Homo sapiens: one gene and its partner. The protein of the gene in region 1 interacts with the protein of each later gene in a pairwise test. Each region holds a gene or a part of one and is shown on either strand. Other genes may lie near its edges.

What was found. The genes of interacting proteins can lie anywhere in the genome.
Region 2: the proteins of CCDC6 (region 1) and LRSAM1 interact in binary tests that used the Homo sapiens proteins (3 or more experiments, as listed by UniProt).

The regions. Positions count from the first base shown.
Region 1 is NC_000010.11:59,791,557-59,799,709, forward strand, and holds part of CCDC6 (coiled-coil domain-containing protein 6), read right to left. Parts: intron 3,042-8,153; coding exon 2,917-3,041; intron 1,556-2,916; coding exon 1,361-1,555; 3' UTR 1-1,360.
Region 2 is NC_000009.12:127,475,510-127,482,509, forward strand, and holds part of LRSAM1 (E3 ubiquitin-protein ligase LRSAM1), read left to right. Parts: intron 1-3,424; coding exon 3,425-3,454; intron 3,455-3,873; coding exon 3,874-3,996; intron 3,997-4,329; coding exon 4,330-4,469; intron 4,470-5,673; coding exon 5,674-5,718; intron 5,719-7,000.

The sequences.
Region 1 (8,153 bases):
CTCTGATTATATCCAACAGATACACATTCTTGTCATAAAATATACATTCTCTAGTAAGTTATTTTCATCCACAGCATATATAAATATGCAAACACAGGTGGTAAAAATCACTTTACTACCAAAGTACAAAACAGCAACTGCTGAAAAACAAAAATTAAGATGTTGCACGTGTTAAGAAAAGAGTGACTCAGTGTTCCACTGCAAAGTGAAACCAAATGATTTATTTGTGCTAAATGAATGGAAATAATGTATTCAGAATATACTTCTTTGTACACTGCACTTGCTTATACTGGGTGAAATGAACAGCCATCAATGCTAATGTGCTACTTTCCTTTAGACCTTATTTTCTTTTCTGCCAAGCAATACAATATTTTCTGGCCATTATGCCAAGATAATGCGATAATGTCCATTTCAAATAGTATTTTCTAATGGTATTTTGCACCTTTAAAATATTTGTTCAAACTCTATTTTAAGAGAACACAAATGAAGTACGAAAGGGGGAAGCCGCATTGTTTTTGTTACAATCACACTGCCTTCTGCAGCAGAAATCAAATAACACATTCTAATTAGCCATTGAAACCACCGGTGAGTAGGACAACATTTATCGACTCATGTTAGAGGGGGCCAGGTTAAGTAGATTAACATTAAGGATAAAAAAGAGAATCACATCTTAATATACGATAATTATCCATCCCATTTATGTGGAGAAGGTACAGCCACATGATTCATTACTTTGGGCCATCTGTTTTACGAGAGACATGGATGTCAATAACACAATGAAAATAACCTGTAAAAAATGTATCTGTAGAAAGTTCTGTTAAACAGAAAATATGTCTTGGGCACTGATTCATCTAACTTTCTGTTCTACACTGAAAGCCAGATTTTCAAAGGTCTGAATTGTAGTGCTGAATTATTGGTATGTTTGGTAAACACTATTATAATGAGAGGAGGGTAACAACAGCTCAGTAATTTTCTGCAGATTCATGGAAAAAAATATAAAAAAGATATCCCTTTTTCTTTTACAAACCTAAAAGCCAGGAGAATGAAGCTCTGGGCCAAGCAAAAATTGCACACTGCTGCTGAAATACCAAATACCAAACAGCGAAGGTTCCAGCCAGGGAATGGACGTACATGAAGATTCAAGTAAAACACTGATGGAAAAAGTCGTCTGGTTAGTGTTGTAGACCCACAACACTGGCTGCATTTCTGACAAACATTTACAACACAATGGATAGTGAAGCCTAGATAACCTCAGTGCAAATAAGTCATATCCAAATATGCCAGAGAAGGAAGCCTTTGGCGTTGAGTAGACGGCTCCATTGGATGAGTCCCAACTTGAAATTCAGACTAAGCTCATGCATTAAGGCTGGGAGGAGGGGTGCGCCGAATGTTGCGAAGGAGTAGGCTGCGAGGTGGCTGCTGAGGGGACCGTGGGCTGCATGGGTGGCGGAGGTGGAGGCGGAGGTGGCTGGACTGGGGTCTGTGTGTTGGGAGATGGAGGCGGCGTGGGCCGTTTGAATTTGTCAGGACTGTTGCTTCTCCGTGGTGAAGGCCTCTGCAGAGGGGACAGGAACAGCAAGTCAGTCTAGGTACAGGTGGATCTCATTCTACCTAACACAGCCTGACTTGGCACTGGGGCTAATCAAACACTAACCAACAAAGACAAGAAACCAGGGATTTCTTTCTTCATCCCTACTGGTTTCTGAACTAGTAATAAAATTTAAATAAGGCAGTGTTTACACTTCCACCTATGAAAAAGCTACATAAAATTACTGCACAACTTGTGTTGAACAAACTGCTGGACTTGGGTCCTTCAACGAGAGCTGTAAAATATCCCCTTAAATCTTTCTTTCCGTGTGTGTCACCAATTCCCTCTATTGCTTATCTCCAATAAGTTGTCCACATCCTGAAAGATACAGCTCAACAGAAATGTTTCTATGTTTGAGGCCGGGTGCAGTGGCTCACACCTGTAATCCTAGCACTTTAGGAGGTAGAGGTGGGTGGATAACCTGAGGCCAGGAGTTCGAGACCAGCCTGGCCAACAGGGCAAAACCCCGTCTCTATTAAAAATACAAAAAGCAGCCAGGTGTGGTGCCGTGTGCCTGTAATACCAGCTACTCGGGAGGCTGAGGCAAGAGAATCCCTTGAGCTCCGGAGGCGGATGTTGCAGTGAGCAGACATCATGCTGCTGAACTCCAGCCTGGATGACAGAGTGAGGAAAAAAAAAAAAAAAGTTCCTACTTTTACATAAAGTCCATCAAACTGGCCAAACAGCTTCAGAAATACCTTAAGTGCATTCTTAGAATAGGGTTCTTCTTTAAAATATTATAATTTATTCTTTGAAATATTGGTATTTCTGTTATTGGAAATACCCTTAATAATACTCTCACTCTACTAGCTACATTTCTAATGGCTCTATTAGTCAACTATATTGCCGACTCTAAAGAAAAAACTCCCTTGGGTAGAGTTGGAACCAGATGCACTTAAGCTTCCTTGTAATTCGAGGAGAGAAAATTCTGAGTAACATTACAAACAAGGCTAACTTCAGGAAGAATACTGAAGGTCAGTGAACTGTGAAGGTGCAGACAATAAATATCTTTAGACATTATGGCAACCAACAATAATGCAAGGAGCTGGCCAGAGTTCAATCAAAGCACTGGCCAGAGTTCAAATTATATTTCACAAAGGGTAATTTTTCATAGGAAGTGAAGTTAAAGTTTTGTCTCCTGGGAAGGATTTTAGTTTCAATACCAGAATTTGGTATCAAACTGTTTAAGTCTCTACAGTTTCAAGGTGAACGGATGGAGGAGGCAGGAAGAAGGGCAAATGTCTAAGGGCACCGATCCTGTTCTCCAGAACACCAGTCGGTACCACTTTCAGGAGTAAAGTGCTGCTTCCTACCCCACGGACACTTACTGTGATACCATGGGATGTTCCCATGTGCTGCACGTGAAGACCCGGGGAATTGTAATAAGACATTCCAGCTCTAGTCAGTGAAGTTGGTGGCGTGAAACCAACCGTGTGACTTGCATATGATAGACCTAAAATATAACAACAAATTAAGTATCATTTTAAGCTCAACTATCTGGTGTCTTCAACTATCTAGGAGGTTTTAAATCGCAGTAGTTCTCTATCACCCACAAAAATACAAACAGATGAAAAGAATGATGGGCTCACTAAATGGTGTGGATAACAAGGGAAATAAATGTTAATTCCTAGGATAGAACAGAGAGCCCAGAAATAAACTCACACGTATATGGTCAACTGATCTTCAAAAAGGGCACCAAGAATACACAACGGGGAAAGAGAACAGTCTCTTCAACAGATGGTGTTGGGAAAACTGGATATTCACATGCAGAGGAGTGACACTGGACCTTATCTCTTACACTATATACAAAAGTCAACTCAAAATGGATTAAAGACTTAACTATAAGACCTTAAACTATAAAACTCTTAGAAGGAAAATAGGGGAAAAGCTCCCTGACATTGATCTTAGCAATGATTTCTTGGATATGACATAGGCAACAAAAAAAAAAAGCAAAAACAAATACGTGGGACTACATTCAACTAAAAAGTGTCTGCGCTAAGGAAACTTTCAGTCAACAGACTGAAAAGGCAACCTATAGAATGGGAGGAGATATTTGCAAACCATATACCTGGTATGGGGTGAATATGCGAAATACATAAGTAACTCCTATGACTCAAAGCAAACAAACACACTCAAATAGTCCAATGAAAAAATGCACAGAGAACTTGAATACACATTTCTCTAAAAAAGATACACAAATGTGCTAATAGATATATGAAAAGACGATTATCACCACTAACCATCAGGGAAATGCAAATCAAAACCACAGTGAGATATCACCTCATAACTGTTAAGTTGGCCATTATTATTTTTTTTCTTATTCATTTTTATTATTATTATTATTATACTTTAAGTTTTAGGGTACATGTGCACAATGTGCAGGTTAGTTACATATGTATACATGTGCCATGCTGGTGTGCTGCACCCATTAACTCGTTATTTAGCATTAGGTATATCTCCTAATGTTATGCCTCTCCCCTCCCCCCACCCCACAACAGTCCCTAGAGTGTGATGTTATTCCCCTTCCTGTGTCCATGTGTTCTCATTGTTCAATTCCCACCTATGAGTCAGAACATGTGGTGTTTCGTTTTTTGTCCTTGCGATAGTTTACTGAGAATGATGATTTCCAATTTCATCCATGTCTCTACAAAGGACATGAACTCATCATTTCTTATGGCTGCATAGTATTCCATGGTGTATATGTGCCACATTTTCTTAATCCAGTCTATCGTTGTTGGACATTTGGGTTGGTTCCAAGTCTTTGCTATTGTGAATAGTGCCACAATAAACATACCTGTGCATGTGTCTTTATAGCAGCATGATTTGTAGTCCTTTGGGTATATACCCAGTAATGGGATGGCTGGGTCAAATGGTATTTCTAGTTCTAGATCCCTGAGGAATCACCACACTGACTTTCACAATGGTTGAAATAGTTTACAGTCCCACCAACAGTGTAAAAGTGTTCCTCTTTCTCCACATCCTCTCCAGCACCTGTTGTTTCCTGACTTTTTAATGATTGCCATTCTAACTGGTGTAAGATGGTATCTCACTGTGGTTTTGATTTGCATTTCTCTGATGGCCAGTGATGGTGAGCATTTTTTCATGTGTTTTTTGGCTGCATAAATGTCTTCTTTTGAGAAGTGTCTGTTCATGTCCTTCGCCCACTTTTTGATGGGGTTGTTTTTTTCTTGTAAATTTGTTTGAGTTCATTGTAGATTCTGGATATTAGCCCTTTGTCAGATGAGTAGGTTGCAAAAATTTTCTCCCAATTTGTAGGTTGTATAAAAGAAAAAAAAAGGTAACAAGTGGTGGTGAGGATACGGAGAAAAAATCCTTATACACTGTTGGTAGGAATGTAAAATGGTGCATCCACTATGGAAATCAGTATGAAAATGCCTCAAAAGATTAAAACTAGAAGTACCACATGATCTAGCAATCCCACTTCTGGGTATTTATACAAAATAATTGAAATCAGGATCTCAAAGAGATATTAGCACTCCCATATTCACTACAGTGTTATTCACAATAGCAAAAATGTGGAGGCCTGGAGCGGTGGCTCACGCCTGTAATCCCAGCACTTTGGGAGGCTGAGGCAGGCAGGTCACAAGGTCAGGAGATCGAGACCATCTTGGCTAACATGGTGAAACCCCGTCTCTACTAAAAAAAATACAAAAAAATTAGCTGGGCATGGTGGCGGGTGCCTGTAGTCCTAGCTATTCGGGAGTCTGAGGCAGGAGAATGGCATGAACTCGGGAGGCGGAGCTTGCAGTGAGCTGAGATCGTGCCACTGCACTCCAGCCTGGGCGACAGAGCCAGATTCCATCTCAAAAAAAAAAAAAAAAAATGTGGAAACAACCTCACTGTCCATCAACGGATGAGCAGATAAAGAAAATGTGATATATATAGACATATAAAGGAATATTCAGTCTAAAAGGAGAAAATCCTGCCATATGCAACAACATATATTAACCTCGAGAATATTATGCTAAGTGAAATAAGCCAGTCACAGAAGGACAAATCCTGCCTGGTTCCACTTATATGAGGAGTTTAAATAGCCAATCTCATAGACACAGAGTAGAATGGCGGTGAACTGCTGCTCAACAGCCATCAAGTTTCAGTTAAGCAAAACGAATAAACTACAGAGAGTTGCTGCACAACATTATACTACAGTTAACAGTACTGTATTGTATTCTTAAAAATAAGAGGATAGATCTTATATTGAGAGGTCTCACCACAATAATGATTTTTTTAAGTCAAACCCTGTCAGGAATTCAACTGAGATTCAGGAAAGCAAAAGACATGAGAAAGAACAAGAATAAAGTGGAGAAAATCGAGCAAAGGAGTAAATATCAAATGCAAGAAAACCAGAAATGTCAAAAGATGTATCAACAATTGACCAAACTGGAGATAGATATTAAGTAGCCAATGAACTGAACCTCCTAGCAAAAAAAAAAAAAAAAAAAAAAAAAAAAAATCAACAAGAAGAAGACAGGGAGAGTGTGGGCATGAGTGAGTGAGAGAGAGAGAGAGTGAGAGTGTTGTGTGTGTGTGTGTGTGTGTGTGTGTCTCAGCCATAACAGCAAACAAAACCACTGGGAATATCACGACTTGAGAATATTCAATACAAGGAATGAAAGCCCTGCCAATGTTCCCTAAAAGAACCTGGTATTTAAGGAAGAAACAATCCCCAGTCCAATATAATGTTCTGTGTAGTCTTCATGTAGGAGTCCAGGATCATCTCCACTGTGTTTTAACATCTGTATGTCCAGACTCTCCTTACTGTTAGACAGGTTTGGATTGGGGTCCATATTTTGAGAACATCTAAAAGCGATCCTCACCTACATGTGGCATGTGAAGCCCTGCTCGTCAAGAGTCAGTGCAGAAGTCACCAGCCGGTCTGGGGAATTACTTGTTTTATCACTGCACAAATGTGGCTAGCTTTCTTTACACCTTTGAGTTCCCAACATCTACCACAATACCTTGCACAGGGTAGGTTCCATACTGGCAAAGTGAAAAGGGAAAACAGAGGAGCTGTCTGGGGAAATGTGGATAGGAATCACCTATTGACAATTACTCTGAACATACTATCAGCTATTAGAGGCCAAGCAATGTGAACTCCACTTACTGCTTTTCTGAATTACGTAAAAACAAGAAGCTGTTAAGTATGCTCTTCCATCTGTCTTTTTTGTTTCCATGACAGAGATATTCAGCCAAGCCTTCCTTTAGTTGTGCTATTATCGCAGGACTTTTCTGTGCCCTCAGCATCTAATACTAAAAGTTTATTTTGTGATTTGACTATGAATTAGTGATGCTTTCTATTTGACATATTTCCATTTCCAATTGTGGAGTTTTTATTCACATTTACAAAATGGAGGTCTGGGATAAAGGACAAGTCTTTGGGAACTAAGTGGTTTTTTAATGTGATATTTACTGGAATCACAAGAACTTTACTCATCTGGGAAAAGAAAGAAGTTGTTTTCTTTAAAAAAACATTGGAGAATAAAATCCTAATTTTATTTCTTATGAAAGTGATTACATTTAAGAGAAAGGCTATAAAATATAAAAGTGGGCTGGACGTGGTGGCTCACGCCTGTAATCCCACCACTTTGGGAGGCTGAGGTGGATGGATCACGAGGTCAGGAGTTCGAGACCAGCCTGACCAACATGGTGAAACCCCATCTCTACTAAAAATACAAAAACTAGGTGGGCGTGGTGGTTTGTGCTGATAAATCCCAGCTACTCAGGAGGCTGAGGCAGGAGAATCGCTTGAATCTGGGAGGTGGAGTTTATAGTGAGCTGAGATCATGCCACTGCACTCCAGCCTGCGCGACAGAGCAAGACTGTTTCAAAAAAAAAAAAAAAAAAAAAAAAAGTGGATCCTTGTCTTCAAATAGGGGATTCAGTTCATTTTTAAAAATATAGTCAATGTTCTAGTATTACTGAGTTAACTTTTCTGAAGGGTAATTATGAGTACTGCCTACTTACTTAAAAAAAAAAAAATCCTGGCCGGTCATGGTGGTTCATGCCTGTAATTCCAGCACTTTGGGAGGCTGAAGCGGGTGGATCACTTGAGGTCGGGAATTCAAGACCAGCCTGGTCAACACGGTGAAACCTTGTCTCTACTAAAAATACAAAAAATTAGCCAGGCATGGTGGCGGGTGCCTGTAATCCCAGCTACTTGGGAGCTGTAATCCCAGCTTAAACCCAGGAGGCGGAGGTTGCACTGAGCCAAGATCATGCCACTGCACTCCAGCCTGGGCAACAGAGCAAGACTCTATCTCGAAAAAAGAAATCTCCTTCTCTAGCTGTTACCAAGACTTCTGCATTTGGCTTCAAACTATATTCTGATGCTGCAGGTCAGTGGTTCTCAACAGTGAATATCAAAGTTCTGCTTGCCTTATCCCAAACCAATGAATCAGAATCTCCAGGGAGCTGAACCCCAGGGCAGCTGTGAAGAGAACTGCAGTGATTTTATTGCTCTTGATTCAGACCTCCATGCCTCTGTTAATGGTGTGCCCTAGCCTGAGAATGTCTTCTCTTTACCACAGCTTCTTCCTGCTCCCAG
Region 2 (7,000 bases), on another chromosome or scaffold:
CAAACATTTAAAAATGCCAACTTTGCTGGTAATCAGAGGAGAGGCATGTTAAGTTAAAACAACATTGAAATACCATTTCCTTCCTCAAGATTGGCACACATTTTGACATGACAATTTCTGTTGGCCAGAGTATGGGAAAACAGGTGTCCTCATAAACTGCTCTTGGGAGTGAAAATTGGTATCACAACTTTGGAGGATAATTTGACAGTAGGTGTCAAAAAAGATTTTATTATTTTTTTATTTTTTTTTGAGATGGAGTCTCACTCTGTTGCCCAGGCTGGAGTGCAGTGGTGCAATCTTGGCTCACTGCAACCTCCATCTCCCGGGTTCAAGTGATTCTCCTGCCTCAGCCTCCCGAGTAGCTGGGATTACAGGGATGCGCCACCATGCCCGGCTAATTTTGTATTTTTAGTAGAGACGGGGTTTCACCATGTTGGCCAGGCTGGTCACGAACTCCTGACCTCAAGTGATCTGCCCACCTCGGCCTCCCAAAGTGCTGGGATTACAGGTGTGAGCCACCACACCCGCCAGATGTCAAAAATTTTCATGGGCACAGCCCGTGATCCAGAAGTTCCGCTTCTCAATGTATACCCAAGATAAATGCTTGCATGAGGAGACATTTGCAGGAGTGTTTATTGCAGCCTTATTTGTAGTATTGGATGCCCCCCAAATGTTTGTCAGTGAGAAGGCACTGCCCCTGGGTCATGTGCACACCATGAGATGGAGCATTTGAGCCTCGGCTCGCTGGGACACATGGATTAGTGAAAAGGGCAGATTGCAGAACAGGATGGGCTAGTCTATTTCCATTCTTATGTTTAAAAAGAAAACTCAATCAACACCAGCCTGGGCAATGTGGCGAGACCCTGTCTCTACAAAAAATACAAAAAAATTAGCCAGGCATAGTGGCACGTGCCTGTGGTCCCAGCTACGAGGGAGGCTAAGGTGGGAGGATGGCTTAAGCCCAGGAGGTTGGAGTTTGCAGTGAGCTAAGATTACACCACTGCACCCCATCCTGAGTAACAGAACTAGACCCTATCTCAAAAAAGAAAGAAAAAGAAAACTCAAAACAAAAAAAGGAAACAGACAGGTAGTTGCCAGTGGCTGGAGTGGGAAGAGGATTTGATGATGAAGTGGCATGAGCGAATTTTCGAGGGTGATGGAATTGTTTTCTTTTTTCTTTTTGAGACAGAGTCTCACTCTGTCACACTAGGCTGGAGTGCAGTGGCATGATCTCAGCTCACTGCAACCTCTGCCTCTCAGGTTCAAGCAATTCTCCTGCCTTAGCCTCCCGAGTAGCTGGGATTACAGGCACCTGCCACCACGCCTGGCTAAGTTTTGCATTTTGTTAGTAGAGACGGGGTTTCACCATGCTGGCCAGTCTGGTCTCGAACTCCTGAACTCAAGTGATCCACTTGTCTCAGCCTCCCAAAGTGCTGGGATTACAGGCATGAGCCACCGCGCCCAGCCAGAATTGTTTTCTATCTTAATTGTGTTTAGAGGTTACAGAACTCTATGCATATATAAAGATTCATAGAATTGTTCACTAACATTGGGTGAATTAGAGTAAATAGATTATACTTGATTAAAAAAATGTTTATATATGCACACAAATACAAATATATTTCTTTCCCAAAGGCACAAATTATATATGTACAGATGCATGCCTTGGGCCTGATAATGACAGTTACACCTGACAGGAGGTGTGGGGTGGGAGGGGAACCAGGGTTAGGCTGGAGTGGTCAGTAGATGCTTTAGTTTTTTATACCATGTTTCAAACTTTTACAAGGAGAATATATTGAGATGTTATCTGTATAATTGAAGATTAATTTTAAAATTATATTCCTACCATTAGTATAGGCAAAATCCTATTTATAGGTTGCTGCTTTTATAATTCAGAGACTGATCCTGTTCTCAAAACAGGATAACTAAATAGAAGGACCATTCAAAAAATACCTGTGTGCCAGGCGCAGTGGCTCACGCCTATAATCCCAGCACTTTGGGAGGCCGAGTCGGGTGGATGCTTGAGCTCAGGAGTTTGAGACCATCCTGGGTAACATAGCAAGACCTTGTCTCTACCAAAAATACAAAAAATTAGCCAGGCATGGTGGTGCGTGCCTGCAGTCTCAGCAACTTAGGAGGCTGAGGTGGGAGGATCACTAGAGCCCAGGAGGTCGCGGCTGCAGTGAGCTGAGATTGTGCCACTGCACTCCAGCGTGGGCAAGAGTGAGACTCCATCACAAAGAAAAAACTTGTGTGGGCCGGGCGCAGTGGCTCATGCCTATAATCCCAGCACTTTGGGAGGCCGAGGCAAATGGATCACCTGAGGTCAGGAGTTCGAGACCAGCTTGGCCAATATGGTGAAACCCTGTCTCTATTAAAAATACAGAAAATCAGCCGGGTGTGGTGGTGGGTGCCTGTAATCCCAGCTACTCAGGAGGCTGAGGCAGGAGAATTGCTTGAACCCAGGAGGTGGAGGTTGCAGTGAGCCAAGATTGTGCCATTATTGCACTCCAGCCTGGGCAACAAGAGCAAAACTCCGTCTCAAAAAAAAAAAAAAAAAAGAAGAACCTAACTCTTGTGTATATGTGTATTGCTGTTTAATTACATCAATAATAAATTAATTAATTAAACACCAATAATTACATTACATTATTGATGTTTAATACCTGCTCCTTGTTATAAATTTAAACAATACAGACAATTACAAACCAAGTGAATGTCAACCCTTCCACCCTGCACTCCCGTTGCCTGGAGGTAGTCATCATTAACTGATTAATGACTGTCCTTCTTGACCTTTGACTCAATACCTTCACACATATGCTCAGAGTTGAGTTTTCTTGATGATGTTTTTGCAAAAGTAGAATCATGCTACACACAGGTGAGGGATCTCACACATTCGCCCCATTGGCGGTTGTGTAATAGTCCACTGTATGGATGCACCATGACTTACGGACAGATGTTGATAGATGTATGAGTTATTTCCAGTGTTTTTGCTCTTTTGAATAATTCTGCAGGAAGTTGTACCCACACCTTTGTGCACTGTGAGTATTTTGGTGGACTGGAACCGGGTGCTGTAGGTGTGTTACGCAGACATCCATGGGCATCAGATATCCCATTTCCTGCTCTGCTCTTCAGACCACCATCCCTGCTCAGGGCTGCATCCCAGAACTGTCTTGAAGAGCCCCTCCTACAGTGCCATGCACACAGTGACAGCCCAGGGGTTCTCATCAGGTGTCCACTGGAACCACCTGGTGCCCTTGATCAATACGGATCCCCTCATCCCCCGACCCCACCATTCTGAGGCAGTGGTCTGGGGTGGGCCAGAGTTTGTATAACATCAGGCCACCCGGGGGTTCCTGGTGCCCATGCCAGGGAGAACCACTGCTGCCACCCTCTCTTGACCACTGTCTTTTTTTCCTCCCAGAACAGGTTCTCAGACTATGAGAAGAGGAAGGTAAGAAAATGCCTTTACCCTTCTGTCACTCTTTTCTCATTAAAGATCTCAACTCAACTCATAAAATATTTGAGAAAATGACTTCTTCCCAGCTCAGAATTAGAGGTCACAGTAATGCCTTCCTCTTACACGCAGTCTGCTGCATCCTCACATGCCTCAGGTGGGTGGTAGAGCATCCATGGGACAGGTGCAGAGACTGAGGCTCAGAGGGGTTGAGCCCAGCACCGGGCTCTAGACCACTAGCCTCTTCCTGTGAACAGCTTGTTTTCTTACAGTTGGGCCCTGGAGGGGAGTGGGGGTTGCTCAGCATGAAGACCTGGAGCCTGCCCTGTCAGTGTTGAGGGGTGGATTCTCCCGACTTCTGTGTCCTAACTCCCCCAGGGCCTGTGCTGACAGTCACCAGGATCTGTGTCTTGCAGGAACAGAAGATGCTGGAGAAACTCGAGTTTGAACGGCGCCTGGAACTGGGGCAGCGGGAGCACACCCAGCTCCTTCAGCAGAGCAGCAGCCAGAAGGATGAGATCCTTCAGACGGTCAAGGAGGTTTGTGAGCCGCCTGCTAGGGTCCAGCCTGGCTGCATCCCCCAGCCAGTGGCCTCCTGGCTTGGGCCAAGGTCCCTCGGATGTGGAAAGGCAGTGGGATGAAGCTGTCACTTCCTTCTGTCCCCCAGCACCTGGGAGGGCCCTTACAGATCACCCAGCCCAGCCTCCCCGTGTGCAGATGGACACTGTAGCCTACTGGGAGGAGCTGGCCGGAGGTCACACAAAAAGGATTGGCAAGGCAGGGTGGGAAAGCCAGCCTCCTAACCCCAGTCAGTACCCCTCACGGCGTCTGAGGGGGTCCCAGGGGCTCAGGACCCCTACCTCCGGCTGCAGGAGCAGTCCCGGCTGGAGCAGGGCCTGAGTGAGCACCAGCGCCACCTCAACGCAGAGCGGCAGCGGCTGCAGGAGCAGCTGAAGCAGACGGAACAGAACATTTCCAGCCGGATCCAGAAGCTGCTGCAGGACAATCAGAGGTTGGGCTCTGCTCCTCGGCCCCAGCCCCAGAGTCCTTCCCCGTGCAGTCCCCTGAGGAGCCGGGAGGAGTGTGTTTCTCCCTCACTGCCTCTGCCCCTGCCCCGGGCTTCCCTTGTCAGGATCCAGTCTGGGTGCTTCAACTGGCACCAGCGTAGAGAGAAAAGAATCTGACCCAGTCATTACAAAGTCTGGTTTCTTAGCATGAGACTGCTACCAGATTGGACCTGTGGCCTCGGGCAAATGTTTCCCCACTGGGCCCCAAGCTTCCCATCTATAAAGTGAGTGGGTTTGACAAGATAGTTGGGATCACATCCTGCTCCAGTATTTTGGGTTCTGCGTAACCCGTTGCACTGAGGTCAGCTGTTCACCTGTAGTGAGATTTGCCTTAACAAACCCTGTGCAAGGTACGAGCTAGTAAGAGCAGATCTTGATGGGGCTGGGGAGACATGGCGCCAGAAAAGCCTGAGAAGTCTAGTGAGGGGGCCCATTGCAGGATGATTCCAGAAACAGGCTCCAGCCATATGCCCTGCCACTTCCAGGCCTCTTTTTTCTAACCCTGAATCACTCGTTCCTCCCTCACCTGTCAGTTTCAAAAGTACCTGCATGAGTTCAGGAAACCAGTCATTTGTTGGATGCTTCTTATGTGCCAAGCTTGTTACATCTATTTCTTCATTAAGTCTTTACAAATGCACCAAGAAGCTGGGTTGTTTTCATTTTGTTTTGTTTGAGACAGAGTCTCGCTGTGTCACTGAGGCTGGAGTGCAGTGGTGTGCTCTCGGCTCACTGCAACCTCCTTCTCCCAGGTTCAAGCAATTCTCTTGCCTCAGCCTCCCAAGGAGCTGGGACTACAGGCTTGGGCCACCACGCCTGGCTAATTTTTGTAGAGATAAGGTTTCTCCATGTTGACCAGGCTGGTCTCGAACTCCTGACCTCAAGTGATCTATCCACTTCAGCCTCCCAAAGTGCTGGGATTACAGATGTGAGCCACTGTGTCTGGCTGGGTTTTTTTATTCTTCTAATTTCATAGGTGAGGAAACCTGGGACTTGAGTGGTTTCAGTAACTGGCTAAGAACCCAGAGCTTCAAGGTGGTGGAGCCAAGGTGCCCCCAGCCCATTTCCTAAGCCCCTCTGCACAGCTAACGCAGTGAGACAGGAAACAGGCCTGCTGGTGACTGCCAGGACCTTTTATGATTTTCTCCACAGACAAAAGAAAAGCTCCGAGATTTTGAAATCGCTGGAAAATGAAAGGTAAGTGTTCTTCCAGGGGAGGGCAGCATTTTTTTTTTTTTTTTGAGACGGAGTCCTGCACTGTCGCCAGGCTGGAGTGCAGTGGCACAATCTCGGCTCAGTGCAACCCCCGCCGCCCAGGTCCAAGCAATTCCCCTGCCTCAGCCTCCCGAGTAGCTGGGACTATAGGCGCATACCACCACCAGCTAATTTTTTGTATTTTAGTAGAGACGGGGTTTCACCGTGTTAACCAGGATGGTTTCGATCTCCTGACCTCATGATCTGCCCGCCTCGGCCTCACAAAGTACTGGGATTGCAGGCGTGAGCCACTGCTCCCGGCCAAGGAGAGCAGCTTTGAGGGGAGAATGTCTTGTGATTCTCCAGAGGATTATGCCAGGACATTTCCCTAAAGCTATAAGGAGATTCACCTCCTTAGACGATATTTAATTACAAAGAATCATTGTCTTCAAGTTCATTAAAACATACGTACACTCCTGAAAAACATTCAGAGACATGAATAAGGCTAGATATATAATGTCCAACTATATTCCTAGTATAAAAAGTTCAGGCCAGGCGCAGTGGCTCACATCTGTAATCCCAGCACTTTGGGAGGCCGAGGTGGGCAGATCACTTGAGGTCAGGAGTTTGAGACCATCCTGGCCAACATGGCAAAACGCTGTCTCTACTAAAAATCAAAACTTAGCCAGGAGTGGTGGCAGGCGCCTATGGTTCCAGCTAAAAAAAAAAAGAAATTCAGAAAAAAAATCTAAATTTCTGGAAAGAAAAATTATTTAGTTACATAAATTATGTATGGAGGAATAACCTGCAGCCATTAAATGTCTTATTGAATAATATTTCTCATTAAGGGAAAACATAACATATTGCTAATGGAAAAAGTGACAGGCTATATTTATAGCAGAATTTTTAGTATATCTTTTTTTTTTTTTTTTTTTTGAGACGGAGTCTCACTCTGTCACCCAGGCTGGAGTGCAGTGGCACGATCTCGGCTCACTGCAACCTCCACCTCCCAGGTTCAGGCGATTCTCCTGCCTCAGCATCCCGAGTAGCTGGGATTATAGGCGCATACCACCAGGTCCGGCTGATTTTTGTATTTTTAGTAGAGATGGAGTTTCACCATGTTGGCCAGGCTGGTCTCAAACTCCTGACCTCAAGTCATCCGCCTGCCTCAGGCTCCCAAAGTGCTGGGATTACAGGTGTGAGCCACCGCACCCGGCCATGTGACTATTTGTGAAGGAAATATTTAAAGGACATTTTGCTAGGTGCCAACTTACCTTCCCAAAAA